Regions from separate parts of the Homo sapiens genome. Here region 2 is linked to region 1. A link means that fine-mapping ties the variant in region 1 to the expression of a gene that starts in the linked region. Tissue or cell type: fibroblasts. Region 1 holds a variant in brackets; the other region holds the start of a gene. All regions are shown on one strand. Distances are between the middles of the regions.

Evidence for each region. PIP is the estimated chance that this variant, and not a neighbour inherited with it, causes the effect.
Region 2: it holds the start of SLC19A3, and the variant in region 1 is fine-mapped to the expression of SLC19A3 in fibroblasts (GTEx, PIP 0.94).

The regions. Positions count from the first base shown.
Region 1 is chr2:227,810,840-227,818,946 of GRCh38, reverse strand. CCL20 (C-C motif chemokine ligand 20) reads right to left here and starts at 5,105. Exons shown (of 4, transcript NM_004591.3): 1 at 4,960-5,105; 2 at 3,379-3,493; 3 at 2,563-2,640; 4 at 1,391-1,885. The coding sequence starts at 5,035. The coding sequence ends at 1,864. RefSeq lists an enhancer at 1-1,168. The variant T/C (reference allele first, on the strand shown) is at 3,083.
Region 2 is chr2:227,714,390-227,722,496 of GRCh38, reverse strand. SLC19A3 (solute carrier family 19 member 3) reads left to right here and starts at 4,469. Exons shown (of 6, transcript NM_025243.4): 1 at 4,469-4,554. RefSeq lists an enhancer at 4,052-4,938.

The DNA.
Region 1 (8,107 bases):
CCTGCCCCACTTGCATATACTCCTCTTCATCCGGTATTGCTCAAGGGTGGCGCGATTGGCGTTTGGGGTGGGACAATTCTTCATTGTGCAGAACCATCCGTTGCATTCTAGTGAGTTTAGCAACCCTGGCTCCTACCCTCTGAATGCTTGTTGTACTCACCCTCAGACATTGTGACAACTACACATGCCCGCAGATATTTCCAAACACTTCCTGCTGTCCCTTTTCCAACTAGCTACTTCCTACTGATTCTTCATACCACAAGTATTGGGCTGAATCTTGTGAAATTGTCATCTTCTCAGGTCAATGACATCAAATATTGGCTACTTAATGTGATTCAACTGCATAGTACTTCTTCTGGAAGCCCTCACGAATGATGCCCAATGATTTCATTATTAAAGTGCTTACCACCAAGTGTTGTAAGAGCTGCTTTACTCATTCCTGCCTCTCGCCACATTGCTCAGCCTTAAATATCTAGCAGCAAGTTATTAAGTTTTAAGTCACTTCTTCTCTCTAGCACTTGGCACGGTGCCCAGCACATACTGAACCTATGTGTGATGATGAATCAACACACAGGATGTTGAGCATACTTTCCCTGATGATTCAATGTTGCTGTTCCTGAGGATGCAGACGCCCTTGGGGACTATTGAGCCACTTACTCTTTTTTGGCTCCACATCAAGTGACCCACCACTGCCCTACTTTATGGGTTTATGTGTCTTGATTTTGCATCATATCATCAGCATGCCTGCCTCCAGTGATCCTGTGTGTCCTTTGGAATCCGAGGCACTCTGTGAACCTTGATGCATGAATGTAGTGATAGTAACTACTGGTTCAGAGTCTTTTCATCCTGATTGCTGGGCTCTTACCAGGTTTCACACGTCTGGGGGCTCCCCGCTGGTTAGCAAGGCAGCCACTAAGAACTCTCTGAATAGTCATTTTCCTTTCGGAAACTGCTTAAAGATGACTCGGGAGGACTTTTAAATGGAGAAATGTTCGTATGCTGAGATCCTGGCTGGTGACAGAAGGATGGAAGAAGTGATGCCTGAAGGTATATTCTAAATGGTTGTTGTGTCCCTGTAGTCAAAAGGTGTGTGGGCATGGTTTCTTATTTTAAACAGTTTTCTTAAATCAATAAACATTGGGTTATGAATCTCAGATATAGGATCTTTTTCAACTTTTAATCTGGACGACTTTGAATTAAAGAAAAAAAAGAACAACTGTTCCATTATAATTCATGTAAAATCAAGTCCAGGGCCATGAGGGGCCGAGATAAAGGGAACAACTAGAAGTAAGTGGAGGATATAATTTCTCAGAAAATTCTTATATTTTCTGTGCCTGGAAATGGTTTCAATACACATCATAAAAATGATATAAAACTCAATCAACAGAAGAACTTTTTGTTTCTTTATTTTCAATATTTGTCTTATTAATATTTTTCTTATTTTATAATGCAATTACAACAATTTAGGAGACAAAACAATATAAACAAAAGAATGTTAAATAGTTTTTTTTAAAAAATAGCTTGTTGCTTGCAAGAAAGTCCATATAATCTTATTCCCCCCCAAATATAATTTTATACTTTGCACTAAACCAAAATAGCTTATGGAAAATTAGTATTAAATAGCTAAACACAGAAAACCTACAGCTATAAATAACATAAAATACAGTTTAACTTTAATGTGATGCTTAAACAAAGCAAACTATGATGCAATATGAATCAACTTCATTAATTGGACAAGTCCAGTGAGGCACAAATTAGATAAGCACTAAACCCTCCATGATGTGCAAGTGAAACCTCCAACCCCAGCAAGGTTCTTTCTGTTCTTGGGCTATGTCCAATTCCATTCCAGAAAAGCCACAGTTTTTACATGTTCTTGACTTTTTTACTGTAAAATGAAAAAGAAGAAAAGTGTAAGTAATGACAAGGTGACTGCATGGTGGGAATGACTTTGGTACCTAAAGGTTGCTTCACCTGCCCTTAATCTCAACTCAGTATGTCAAGCAGCTCAGAGTTCAGATGAGGAAATTGAGGTTTAGAGAGGATGGCCCTTGCCCAACCTAACTCAGCTCATTAATGACAGAAACAGGCTATGGACACTTATCTTGTGTCTCCAAGTTCAGTATCTATGGCATGCTGGTGTTAGGTGCCTTCTGTCCATTGATAAAGTGTTACTGTCTATTATTGTCAACGTAAATCAGAACCATTGATCTCTGTTTAACTAATGTTCATTTTTCAGTTTTTAACAAACAACCAAATGCCAGATTGCCTTTAAATTATATAAATAGTAGGCATCTTTGCAACAAGAATCAGGCAGCTAGTAACTATCAAATGCATAGAGAAATCTAATACATCATGTAAGAAATCACTAAATTAAAATAATAATAACGATGATGATCTGTAAGTGGAAAAATGCATTCTTTGTTTTTGTGGTCCAACTCAAATTTTCCCTTTAAAAATTCCACAATAGTTAAACTAAAGAATCCCAGAAAACCTACGGCCCACCCCTTTGCACACTCCTCTTTCCTCAAACATTTGCAAAGGCTAAATGTCAGTGTAACATACCTGAGGAGACGCACAATATATTTCACCCAAGTCTGTTTTGGATTTGCGCACACAGACAACTTTTTCTTTGTGTGAAAGCTGAAAAATCAGAAAATTTGATTTGTGTTTAATGAGCTTTTCAATGGGTTTTTCATAGAACATACAATGGAAATTTTATATTCCAGTTGATTACACACTAAACATTTCAGTTGATGAGGTAAAATAAAATGCACAAAAAATGCTTCTGATGAAGATTAATGCAAAATCAAAGTGATTCTCTCTTTCTCTGCAATGTAACAAATAATAGTACAATGGCAGGAAGATAAAGTCCCAGAATTGTCATATAATTTTGCTATTGGTGGTTACATAGAATATGTATGTATCTGATCAATAACTTGTATAATTCCAAAATATAATATCCTATATAAATCAAGAAAATTATATGTGATAGTATAATTAGTCTGAGATTTTACTTTTGGTCTCAAACACTTTCTGGTAGAAGATGCTCATTTCGAAATGTGTATCTTCCCTATTTTCCTAA[T/C]ATATCACTTTAATAGCCTTAGAAAGTGATTTTTGCCCTATACTAGTTCCGTTTGACCAAAAAAAATTTTTAAAAAAGGTTTTGCCTTATTCCAGTCCTGTTTAAAGTGAACTTTAAAGTAGATATGTACTAAGACAAAGCTATCTTTGCCACATCATTTCTTTCTCTTTAAAATAAGATCTTATGTTCAAAACATCAGTAATTTCTGAATGAAACTCTAAAAAGGCAAACATTTTTAAAACTGAAGTTTCTAGGTATTCCTGATACAACTGAATTAAAATCAATTAATAACTTACATGATAGCATTGATGTCACAGCCTTCATTGGCCAGCTGCCGTGTGAAGCCCACAATAAATTTAGGATGAAGAATACGGTCTGTGTATCCAAGACAGCAGTCAAAGTTGCTTGCTGCTAAAAAAAAAAAAAAGTGAAAGGTATTGGATCCACATGAATAAACTTATCCTGTGATTGGTATTATAAAACTACCTTAAGTTGTGAAAAATCTAGTGAATCTCATGTATATGACGAATAAACCACTTAGAGGAGGAGTTTCAATGTCTTGGAAACCTTTGTAAGGTCGTTGAGAACCAATCTAACATAGTTTACAGTTCTTTGAAAAAACAGTTTGTGTGCCGAGAAGTTTTGGTTCAATAATAGAATTGAGAAACACAGGACTTCTCATAAGTGGGATATCTTCAGTAAGAAATACAAATTGACAATATTTCATTTCAGTTCACTATAATCATTCAAGAATATGAGCAGCCCCTTCCCTACTGCTTGAAGGAACCCTTATGTAGATAAACTTCCAAAAGCAGAAAATGAATAAATTGGCAGATTTTAATCTATTATCTGGCTACTAAGTATTGAGAAATAGAGCTACAAAGGGAAATATGATTTATAGGAGTGAAAACACTTTGAAATTGTCCTATTAATTAATAGGAATGTTTAATTTTGTTCATAAAAGTTCAACATGTGGTTGGGCATGGTGGCTCATGCCTGTAATCCCAGCACTTTGGGAGGCCAAGGAGGAAGGATTGCTTGCCTCCAGGAGTTCGAGACCAGCCTGGGCAACACAGTGAAACCCTGTCTCTACAAAAAAAAAAAAAATGTAAAAAAATTAGCCAGGTGAGTGGCACACGGCCGTGGTCCCTGTTATTCAAGAGGCTGAGACTGGAGGTTCACTTGACTCCAGGAGGTTGAGGCTGTAGTGAGCTGTAATCATGCCACTGCACTCTGGCCTGGGTGATGAAGTTAGACCCTGCCTCAGAAAAAAAAAAAAATTCAATGTGCATTTTTAGGAATGCACCTGTTGCTAAAAGTGTTGTGTGACTATTGAGCAATAAAGCAATACTTGGACATTCCCGAGTCAGATTACAACATGCTGTAAGGTAAGGGATTAATGTTATTTTAAAGTTGGCAAGCAATGTCCCCCATGCCTTGTGGGGATGTTGATGTCAGGTATTATAATCTACTTCTAAAGGATGAGTTTTGAACTTTACCAAAACTATTAAGTTGGGAGGTACGAAAGTTGGGGACACAGGAGGATTCTCTACATTTCAAAATGGCCCCATCTACTGGTAACATTACACACTTTATATCACTCCCAGAAACATCACTTTGGCTTTATCCTGAAGTTTAGGGATCTCTAAGAGCCCACCACTCCCCAAATCTGCTGAGATTGACAGCAGAGAGGAAAGCCTGATCCGCAGCAGTAACTCTTCTCTCCTCCACTCCACCATGGGCAGACAACTTCCATCACTACCTCTTGTATACTTCCTAACAGTTTTCCATCCCTTAGGGACCCCCAGTTGAGCTCAAGGCTAAAAGGAAAATGAAAATAGTCTTTCTTCTGTGCTAGCGGAAAGAGCGACACTTACCTTCTGATTCGCCGCAGAGGTGGAGTAGCAGCACTGACATCAAAGCAGCCAGGAGCAAACTCTTGGTACAGCACATGGTTTTTAGCTCAAAGAACAGATCTGCTCAGTGTTGAGTACCCAGTTCTTTGGGAGTGCTGTTATATTCTGACAGCAGCCTGGGATGGCCCTATTTATAGCAAATATTGGGAATGTACACAGAAGGCGTGTTGCCACATGGGGTTTTCCCCATTGATCAACTGGCCCCATCATGTCATCATAAAAAAAACCCGCAAGGAAAACTTCCTGCTTTTTCCTCATATTGGGAAGGTGCGAAGGTCAGGGTGGGGGACAGGAAGTTGAGAAGGGGAGAATCCTGTTAAATTCTTTGTATTTGCAAAGAGCAAAAGCAGCTCAGCCCTGTGACCCAGAAAAGACTTTCATCCAGTTTTAACTTAATCATTTTTGTGTCTGAAAATAGAGGATTAACAGCGATACAAAGGTCAGCCCCACACAGGAACATTCCAGAACTCCTATTGTTACACCCTATTTGCTTTCCAGAACCAGTCAAGGAGGAGGGGGAGGAGGAGCAGGTGGGATGCCAGGCATACTCTGCTACACATTTACCATCACATGGTTGAGGTTCAGCTGTCATGAAGAAGACCCTGAGTTGCTAGACTAACATTCAGAGCAGGTACTATAACAGTGCTACAGTACTGTCCGCAGTTAGAGTGGAAAATATCAGCCTTTAAGTAAGGCTCAAACCTCAGCTTCACCTTGATTTAATGTCAACTCTTCTAAGAATCTTATACATTCACATGGCTTTAATCAATATTGCAGTTCAGAAAATAATCCTTACCTACCTTTAACTCTCCATGATGATGTACTAATATAACTCAATATAGAGCCTCAGAATTGTTGAGGAAAGAAAACCTATCAGCAGTAGCTAGTCAGCACAGCAAATGTCAAATAACAGTACTAATGATGATAATGTAATATGAATCCCTAACCTAAGGCAGTATAAGAACTCTCCACTAGACCCAAATAGGTTGAAAGTAAAAGGATCAAAAGAAAGGTATACCAAACAGTAAACAAAAGAGAACTGGAGTTGGTGATGCCTATATCAGACAAAATAGATTTTTTTTTAATGTTACCGGAAATAAAAAGGGACTTTCATGGTAACACAAAATTAACCCATTGGGAAGATGTAAAACCTATAACCATATATATACCTAACAGTAGCACCCCAAACTACAGAAAGCAAAAACTGACAGAATTGAAGGGAAGAATAGGAAATTTTATTTTATTTTATTATTATAATTTCTTTTGAGACAGAATTTTGCTCTTGTTGCCCAGGCTGGAGTGCAGTGGCACCATCTCGGCTCACTACAACCTCCGCCTCCTGGGTTCAAGCGATTCGCCTGCCTCAGCCTCCTGAGTAGCTGGGACTACAGGCACGTGCCACCACGCCCAGCGAATTTTTGTATTTTTAGTAGAGACGTGGTTTCACCATGTTGCCCAGGCTGAACTCCTGACCTCATTACAGGCATGAGCCACCGTGCCCAGCAGAATAGGAAATTTAACAATAAAAGTTGACAGCTTTGGTACCACATTTTCACTAATTAATAAAATTTAGGCAGAAGATCCACAAGAAAATAGAAGACTTGAACAACACTATAAGCCAAATAGACTTAGCAGGCATCGAAGGACTACTCTATCCAACATCAACAGAATAGTTGCACATGGAATGTTCTCTAGGATAAAGCATATGGTAGGTTATGGAACAAGTCTCAGTAAATGTAAACCGACTGAAATCACATAAAGTATACATTCAAACCACAATGGAATTAAATCAGAAATCAGTAACAGACAGAAAGGAAACCACATATTCCTAAATAACCAATGTGTCTGGCCAGGAGTGGTGGCTCATGCCTGTAATCCTAGCATTTTGGGAGGCCGAGGTGGGTGGACTGCCTGAGGTCAGGAGTTCGAGACCAGACTGGCCAACATAGTGAAACCCTGTCTCTACTAAAAATACAAATATTAGCCGGGTGTGGTAGTCCATGCCTGTAATCCCAGCTACTTGGGAGGCTGAGGCAGGAGAATCGCATGAGCCCAGGAAGCAGAAGTTACGGCGAGCCGAGATCACGCTACTGCCCTCTAACCTGGCCAACAGAGACTCCATCTCAAAGGAAAAAACAACAACAACAACAACAATGTGTCAAAAGAAAAGTCACTAGAGAAAGTAGAAAACAACTTTGAAATGTAAAAAAAAGTCCACAACATATCAAAACTTATAGGATGTAGCAAAAGCAGTCCTCAGAAGGAAACTTATAGCTGTAAACACTCACATTAAAAAAAAAAAAAAAGAAACATCTCAAAACAATAACCCAAACTTCTACCTTAAGAAACTAGAGAAAAGCAGAGCAAGCTAAACCCAAAGCATGCAGAAGGAGGGAAATGAAGATTAGAGCAGGAATAAATAAAACAGAGAATGCAAAACAATAGAGGAAATCAACGAATGCGAAAGTTAGTTCTTTGAGAAGATCAACAAAACTAACAAGCCTTGACTAGACCAAACCAAACAAAGGAAAGGGAGGTAAAAAAAAAAAAAAAAAAAAAAAAACTGTATGCAAATAAAATTACTATGCCGACAGCACAGTAAAAAGATCATACACCATAACCAAGTGGGATTTATTCCAGGAAATGTAATACAACAAATCAATCAAATAAAAAATAAAAATGATTTGAAAAGCAACTGACAAAATCCAACACGTTGTCATGACAAAAACACTCAACTAACTAGGAATAGTTGAGAACTTTCTCAACCTGATAAAAGTCATCTATGACCACCTCACAGCTGATACGAATAGAGATGAAAGACACAAATTATTGACCCTGATTCAAGAAGAAAATAGAAAATTTGGGATGGGCGTGGTGGCTCATGCCTGTAATCCCAGCACTTTGGGAGGCCAAGGCGGAAGGAGCACAAGGTCAGGAGATCGAGACCATCCTGGCTAACATGGTGAAACCCTGTCTCTACTAAAAATGCAAAAAATTAGCCTGGTGTGGTAGCGGGCACCTGTGATCCCAGCTACTAGGGAGGCTGAGGCAGGAGAATGGCGTGAACCCGGGAGGTAGAGGTTGCAGTGAACCAAGATCGTGTCATTGT
Region 2 (8,107 bases), 96 kb after region 1:
TTATGACACAGAGTCCTTGGCTCATATTTTCCTGCTGACCCTCTCCCCACCATTACCCCATAGTCCTGCCACATCCCCCTCGCCGAGAAGGTAGAGAGAGTGATCAATAAATGCTGAGGGAACTCAGAGACCAGAGCCGGCGCGGGTCCTCCGTATGCTGAGCGCCGGTCCCCTGGGCCCAGTGTTCTTTCTCTATACTTTGTCTCTGTGTCGTATTTCTTTTCTCAGTCTCTCGTCCCACCAAGAGATGAACGAGAAATACCCACAGGTGTGGAGAGGCTGGCCCCCTTCAATCTACCAGCCTGGCTAAACACATTATGGGAGGAGGAAGAAGAGGAATTCTGCTGAAGGACAATAAAGGATCAGGTACTGAGATTAATTTGTAAGTAGTTCTCTTTGACTGTGAGAGGGTCTATTCAAGTGTGGTTACATTCTTACTCTTACAAGGAGGGGAAGGAAAAACCATAGTTCCCCTTGGTGGGTCTAGATCTTAGGCAGACAGAAGACTTCAGCTTCTTCAGAAGAGACCTTGTCGGGGAGATCAGACAGACCCTTAGGCTTCTGCAGTTCGGTATCTCAAGGCACTGTATTTTGTGTTATCGGTTTATGAGCTCCAACATCTGCAACTGATTTATGATTGGGAGTGTTGGATGGTCCCAGTACGGCAGGTCACAGCTTCTCTCCAACTCTCTATGTGTTTTTTACTCATTCACTCAGCAAATATGTGGCTGCTCTATTAGGCCAGTTATCCAGCCAAGATAGAAATCTAAAGATAAGGCCAGGTGCGGTGGCTCACACCTATAATCCCAGCACTTTGGGAGATCGAGGCGGGCAGATCACCTGAGGTCAGGAGTTTGAGACTAGCCTGACTAACATGGTGAAACCCTGTCTCTACTAAAAATACAAAAATTAGCTGGCCGTAGTGGCAGGTGCGTGTAATCCCAGCTACTCGGGAGGCTGAGGCAGGAGAATCCCCTGAACCCAGGAGGCAGAGGTTGCAGTGAGCCAAGATCGACCCATTACACTACAGCCTGGGCAACACAGTGAGACTCCATCTCAAAAAAAAAAAAAAAAAAAAACTAAACAAATATTTGCCTTCAAAGAGTTAACATTTAAGAGTGAAACAGATAAATTAGCCTACTTGCAGTAATCCTAATGTGAGATTTTCTTTGCCTGGCCACCTTTTCTCCACTCCTATATCAACTATTCAAATAGACTTTTTTTTTTTTTTTTTTTTTTTTTTGAGACAGAGTCTCACTCTGTCACCCAGGCTGGAGTGCAGTGGCGTGATCTCGGCTCACTGCAACCTCCACCTCCTGGGTTCAAGCGATTCTTCTGCCTCAGCCTCCCAAGTAGCTGGGATTACAGGGGTGTGCCGCCACGCCTGGCTAATTTTTGCATTTTTCGTAGAGATGGGGTTTCGCCATGTTGGCCAGGCTAGTCTCGAACTCCTGACCTCAGGTGATCTACTCACCTGGGATTACAGGCGTGAGCTACCATGCCTGGCCTTGTATAGGTTTTCATGGACATAATTGCAGCCACATTTTTTAGTAACAGTGCAAGAGGAAGTATAATAGGGAGGTACACAGTGTTGAGCAACTCCCTAATACACTATGGCTCCCTCTCCTACTGTTCTCATTCAGCCTCCCTGTAGGTTCTTTCCCAAGTTGGAGCTCCAAGCCTCAGGCTTAGTCATCTTCTCCATCCTCTTCTCAGTGGGATCCACGGCACTTACCACTTTCTAACACACTATAAAATTCACTAACTCATCATGTTTACTATTTATGTTCCCTCTATATACCCCATCCCAAGCTAGAATGTAAATTACAAGGCAGAGATTTTTAGCTTTGTTCACGAATGTATCCCAAGCACCTAGGACAGTGTCTGGCACATAGTTACTCAATAAATAACTTCTTAATGAACAAATGATTTTTTTTTCTTTTTTGTGTATGGGTTTATTTGAGACAGGGTCTGGCTCTGTCACTCAGGCTGGAGTGCAATGGTGTGATCTCAGCTCATTGCAACCTCCACCTCTTTAGGCTCAAGCCAATCTCCCACTTCAGCCTCCCAAGTAGCTGGGACTACAGACGCATGCTACCACGTCTGGGTAATTTTTGTATTTTTGTAGAGACAGGGTCTCACTGTGTTGCCCAGGCTGGTCTTGAACTCCTGGGCTCAAGCGATGCACCCACCTCGGCTCCCCAAAGTGCTATATTACAGGCATTAGCCACTGTGCCCAGTCAGAATAAATGATTTTAAAACAATTTTGTATTATGGAAAATAAACATATACAAAAATGGAAAATAGTGCAATCAGTTTCTAAGAACTACTGCCCAAGTCAACAATAATCAACACACAGCCAATCTTTTGTCATCTATGACCCCATCCACAGCCTTCTCCCCACACAGTCGTATGGGATCAAACTCAAATGTCATGTCATGTAATCTGCAAATGTGTCATTTATGTTTCTATGCATGAATGAATGAATTCCTCAATATCTCTCTCTGATTTAGACTGTGGCTATGAGATATTAGAGAATCAGAGTAAACTTCTCAAGGTCCAATTTGAACTCATTTTCTTCAAGAGGTGTGAAGGAAATCATGACACCTTCAGCCTTTAAGAAAATTTCACAATATTCTTTGGGAGGACCCAGCAATTTGCAAGGTTGCACAATGAGCAGGGCACTCCTACACCTAAGGTTCAGCTCAGGACTTTTCACAAATCATAGGAAGATGAAAATAGAAAACGCAGAGTCGTAGGACAGAGAACCAAGACACCTCGGGGTGTTTTAATCCATTTCACTTCCACTGGTAGCCCTTAGAAGCCACGCAGTGTTTATCTTTAGGGAGGGTTTTTCAAGTCCACCAAGAGATGAACAGAAATAAAAATATTTTTTCCATTTTAACCAATAAGAACCTTGTAATGCTTTAAAAAAATTCTCTGTTTAATAAGAAGTTTCACTTTAATATATAAACTCTTTGCAGGCTAAGCGTAGTGGCTCATGCCTGTAATCCCAACACTTTGGGCGGGCAAGGCAGGAGGATCCTTTGAGCCCAGGAGTTCAAGACCAGCCTGGGCAAGATAGTGAGACTCTGTCTCTACCAAAAAAAAAAAACAAAAAAATTAATGTGACGTGGTGGCACCCACCTGCAAGCCCAGCTACTTGGGAGGCTGAGGCAGGAGGATCAGTGTGCCTGGGAGATTGAGGTTGCAGTGAGCTGGGGTTGCACCACTGCACTCCAGCCTGGGAGATAAAGTGAGACTTTGTCAAAAAAAAAAAAAAAAGAAAGAAAGAAAGAGAAAAGAAAAGAAAAGAGGCCAGGTGGCCGGGTGCTGTGGCTCACACCTGTAATCCTAGCACTTTGGGAGGCCGAGGCGGGTGGATCACCTGAGGTCAGGAGTTTGAGACCAGCCTGGACAACATGGTGAAACCCCATCTCTACTAAAAATACAAAAATTAGCTGGGTGTGGTGACGGGCGCCTGTAATCCCAGCTACTAGGGAGGCTGAGGCAGAAGAATTGCTGGAACCCGGGAGGTGGAGGTTGCAGTGAGCCAAGATCGTGCCATTGCACTCCAGCCCGGGGCCAACAACAGCGAGGCTCCATCTCAAAAAAAAAAAGAAAGAAAGAAAGAAAGAAAAAAGACCAGGCGCGGTGGCTCACGCCTGTAATCTCAGCACTTTGAGAGGCCGAGGCAGGCGGATCACGAGGCCAGGAGTTCGAGATGAGCCTGGCCAATATGGTGAAACCAAACCCCGTCTCTACTAAAAACACAAAAATTAACTGGGCGTTAATTTTTGGAGGCTGAGGCAGGAGAATCGCTTGAACCCGGGAGGCGGAGGGTTGTAGTGAGCCGAGATCGCGCCACTGCACTCCATCCTGGGCGACAGAGGGAGACTCTGTCTCAAAAAAAAAAAAAAGAAAGAAAGAAAAGAGAAAAGAAAAGAAAAAGAAGAAGAAAAGAAAAAATTGTTTGTATCAGATTTTCAAAGTGCCAGGAAACCATCCCACTCTACCTCCTTTAAAAAAAAAAAGTGCAGAGTGATTATAACCACTGGCTCTGGAGCCAGGAGCCCCAACTAAAACCCAGGCTTCTCTATTTACTAGGCCTACTTCCTTCCGCCTCACTTTCTTCATGTGTAGAGTGGGGGTGACAGCCAGCCAGCCCTCTCTCCTAAGCTTTTGGAGAGAAATAAATGGATTCATAAGAAAGGACATATTTGTAAATAAAGCAAACGATCGCTGTTGGATTCAGGCCCTCTTGCTTCATTATGCTGAATGTCAGTGTATTACTTAAGTTGTTCCTTTCAGCAGAGTTGACTGTTTCTGCCCAGAAAACCGGCCCTGGGCCAGGAAAATCTGGGCTTCCACACTGGGATGAAAGGTCTGGACGCCCGGATTCGCATATGCAAAGCGTGGGGGCGTGGCCCCGGGCTCCGGGCCAGGCAGGCTCCGCCCCCTTCCCACCAAGAGCGCCTGGATCCATCCGACAGCCGCGGGTGCGTGGTCGTGCGGCAAGTGAGCGATTTGGTGAACAGACACTCCCTTCTGTAGGTAAGAATATCTCGGGGGGCGAATTAATTGAAGAAGCACCGTCATCCCTCGGTCTTAGCAGTGTCGCCTCTCTCTTCCCGGGTTTGGAGAGCTGGGGGCGGGTTCCTGGCTCTGCGGGCCTGGGCTACACTCTGAGCCGCGTGAGGAGCTCTCCCCCTACGCCGCAGCCCGCGTGCTGGGATTCACCCAAGTGGGTTTGTCTGGAATTCCCATTTGCAGCCTTCTGGAAGCGCAGATTAAATAAAATCATGATTCCCGTAAAGTGCCAGCACCTCCTATGGTTACATCCCACGTTCACAGATTTTAACTGAAAAGGCATTTTAGCATAGAATTCCAAATTCCAATCCAAGGATGGAGAAAAGGTCCTTCCTAGTGGGAAAAAGGAAGGTGAGTTTGAATTTAAGAGAGCAGGGGCTTTTTTGGGAACCACTTGAAATTTAGTTAATTGAAACTAAAAGAAAACGCAACTACACCTTACAAAAACACTGCTGGAAAGGATACCTAAGTCATCAAATAATAAATAGTGTGACAGCTGTTTACCAAATCAATGTCGCTGCCGCAAATGTGCAAAAGGTTGGGACTTTCGGAGTGCTTCAAGTTTGAAAAAGGTAAAGGAATAATGTTTTCTAAAAGTACTCTCAGGCCAGGCGCAGTGGCTCACGCCTGTAATCCCAGCACTTTGGGAGGCTGAGCGGGGCGGATTGCTTGAGGTCAGGAATTCGAGACCAGCTTGGCCCTGGGATGAAACCCCGTCTCTACTAAAAAGGCAAAAATTAGCCGGGCATGGTGGCGGGTGCCTGTAATCCCAGCTACACTGGAGGCTGAGGCTGAAGAATGGCTTGAACTTGGGAGGCGAAGGTTGCAGTGAGCCAAGATTGCACCACTGCACTCCAGCCTGGGCGACCCAGCAAGATTCTGCCTCAAAAAAAAAAAAAAAAAAAAAAAAAAAGCACTCTCATGTGTTTTGCTCCTATCAATATTGAAACATTGGTGTCTCCTGTGGCAAAAGGTGTTTTTTTCATCGAGGCACATATATTAAATAGACCAAAACATAACTTCCCAAATATCTTATAAGATTATCCTAGTAGTAGCTGAAATGGACAAAAATACCAATTTCCTTCAGTCATTATTGCTAATAGACCAACAACACTCTTTTAAGGTTGTGTAATGGTAAATGCATACACATTTATTTAACATGCACACAGGGAGAATCAGAGTGATTGATTACCCACCCTGCAACATGTCTCAGAAGCTTATAGACTACCCTGGCAAATGAGGTTACGGGAGGGAGCCGAAGAGCATCCAGCAGAAGTGGATGGGCTTCTGCTAGGGAGCATGAATGGGTCAGGGGAGAGAATAAGCTACATTATCTTGTGAATGGGTCTGTTCAGGTGTGGGGTATATTCTTGGTCTTACAGGGAAGGGAAAAGAAACAGTTGTTCCTTTTGGTGGGTCTGGATCTTAGGCAGACAAAGGTTTTTTTGAGCTGGGAGCCGGGAAGGTCAGAGAGACCTTGAGGTCTCCAGCATGTCAAAGCCCCATATTTTGGGGTATCGGCTTCTGAGTCCCGGCACTTATTAGTGACGAAACTGATGAGTCTGTAGTAGCCAGATCAAAGAAGAACCCAAAGAATGGGTACATTCGTAGATCAGGAATATTGAATAATGAAATATAGATCAGGAATATTGAAACTGGTTTTCCATGGGGGAAAGGAAGACTGTTGTCCTTCATGGGATAAACCTTATTTGCATGTCTATAGACAATAATTACTTAACATTGCCATCAGTTGTTAAAATTTACAGAGTTGTAAAATAGCTCAAATGACCTCTAATTTTTCTTTAATCCAGTTTTTTCCCTACAACACCACCTTCTCTCAGTGCATTTAATCAGAAACTTTCACTGCATCTCAAGGATTAGATGTCAGCTGACTTTCCTTTTTTGTTTTGTTTTGTTTGGGGTTTTTGAAATTTTTTTTTTTTTTTTTTTTTTTTGAGACGGAGTCTCGCTCTTGTTGCCCAGGCTGGAGTGCAGTGGCTGGGATCTCGGCTCACCGCAGCCTTGACTTTCCCTGTTCAAGCAATCTTCCCACTTCAGTCTCCCAACTACCTGGCACTATAGGCACACACCACCATGCCTAGCTAATTTTTGTATTTTTTATAGAGGTGAGGTCTCGCTATTTTGCCCAGGCTGGGCTCAGTTGACTTTCTAAGCCGTTTTATGTTTTTCTTAGTTTTATGGTTTTCTTAGGCATATTCCTCCTGCTCTCCCTAAGACTAGATTGATCTGAACATAGACATAACAGAATAAACAGAATTTGGAAGGAAATGATTAATTTACCAGCAAACACCTCATGCAAATTAAAAGGAATGGTACCATATATGATAAAATAAAATCTGAAGCATCTTAAAGATCACTTGGGCTGGGTGCGGTGGCTCACACCTGTAATCCCAGCACTTTGGGAGGCCAAGGCAGGCGGATTTCTTGAGGCCAGGAGTTCAAGAGTAGCCTGGCCAACATGGCAAAGCCCCATCTTTACTAAAAATAAAATTTTAAAAATATCACTTGTTTCTGCTCTTACAAAAACAAACAACAGAACTATTCTGGCCCACATACTGAATATCTGGGTCTAGTTTACGTCTTTGGAAGTTGTGTGGCATGCTTTATTTCAGCAAAGATTTTTTTTTGGGGGGGGTGTGGGGTTTGACATAAAGGATTATAGATGGGTGATAAGGCTACTTTGTAGTTTTTTGAGAGTCTAGGTCACTTAGCACAAAATTCTATAGAAGCTAAATTAGGTGACTTTAGTAAGAATAGTCAGGGCAAGGCCAGGCACGGCGGCTCACACCTGTAATCCCAGCACTTTGAGTGGCTGAGGCGGGTGGAGCACTTGAGGTCAGGAGTTCAAAACCAGCCTGACCAACAAGGCAAAACCCTGTCTCTACTAAAAATACAAAAATTAGCCAGGCCTGGTGGCGGGTGCCTGTGGTCTCAGCTACTCAGGAGACTGAGGTGGGAGAATCGCTTGAACCCAGGAGGCAGTGGTTGCGGTGAGTGGGGAGATTGTGCCACTACACTCCAGACTCCAGCCTGGGTGACAGAGGGAGACTCTGTCTCAAAAAAAAAAAAAAAAAAAAAAAGAATAGTCAGGGAAAGGTGTTATTCATGTATTTATCTCTCTAATCACTTGTATTTCAGAAAGATCTGGATCTGGGTGTCTGCTTTTTTTTTTTTTTTTTTTTGGATGGGATTTCAAATGTCATCGGCTGCAGAAGAGGGTGGGCCCCAGTACATAAAGCCACCAGAAGTGGATGGGCTTCTGCGTATAAAGCTATTGCTCTTGGCAGCTCTGTCTGAAGGAGGAGGACAAGAGACTCCAGGGTATGGAAAGGGATTTTCATAGTGGCGGGCAGCAGGAAGGAGCAGAAGTTGGACCTGAAGGCAGGAAGCCAGCTTGGTTCTAGAAAGAAAGAAACTGGGGGCACAGAAAAAAACAGGTAACTCAAGGGATCCTCCTGCCTCAGCTTCTGAGATTCAGATTCTATCTGTATTAACT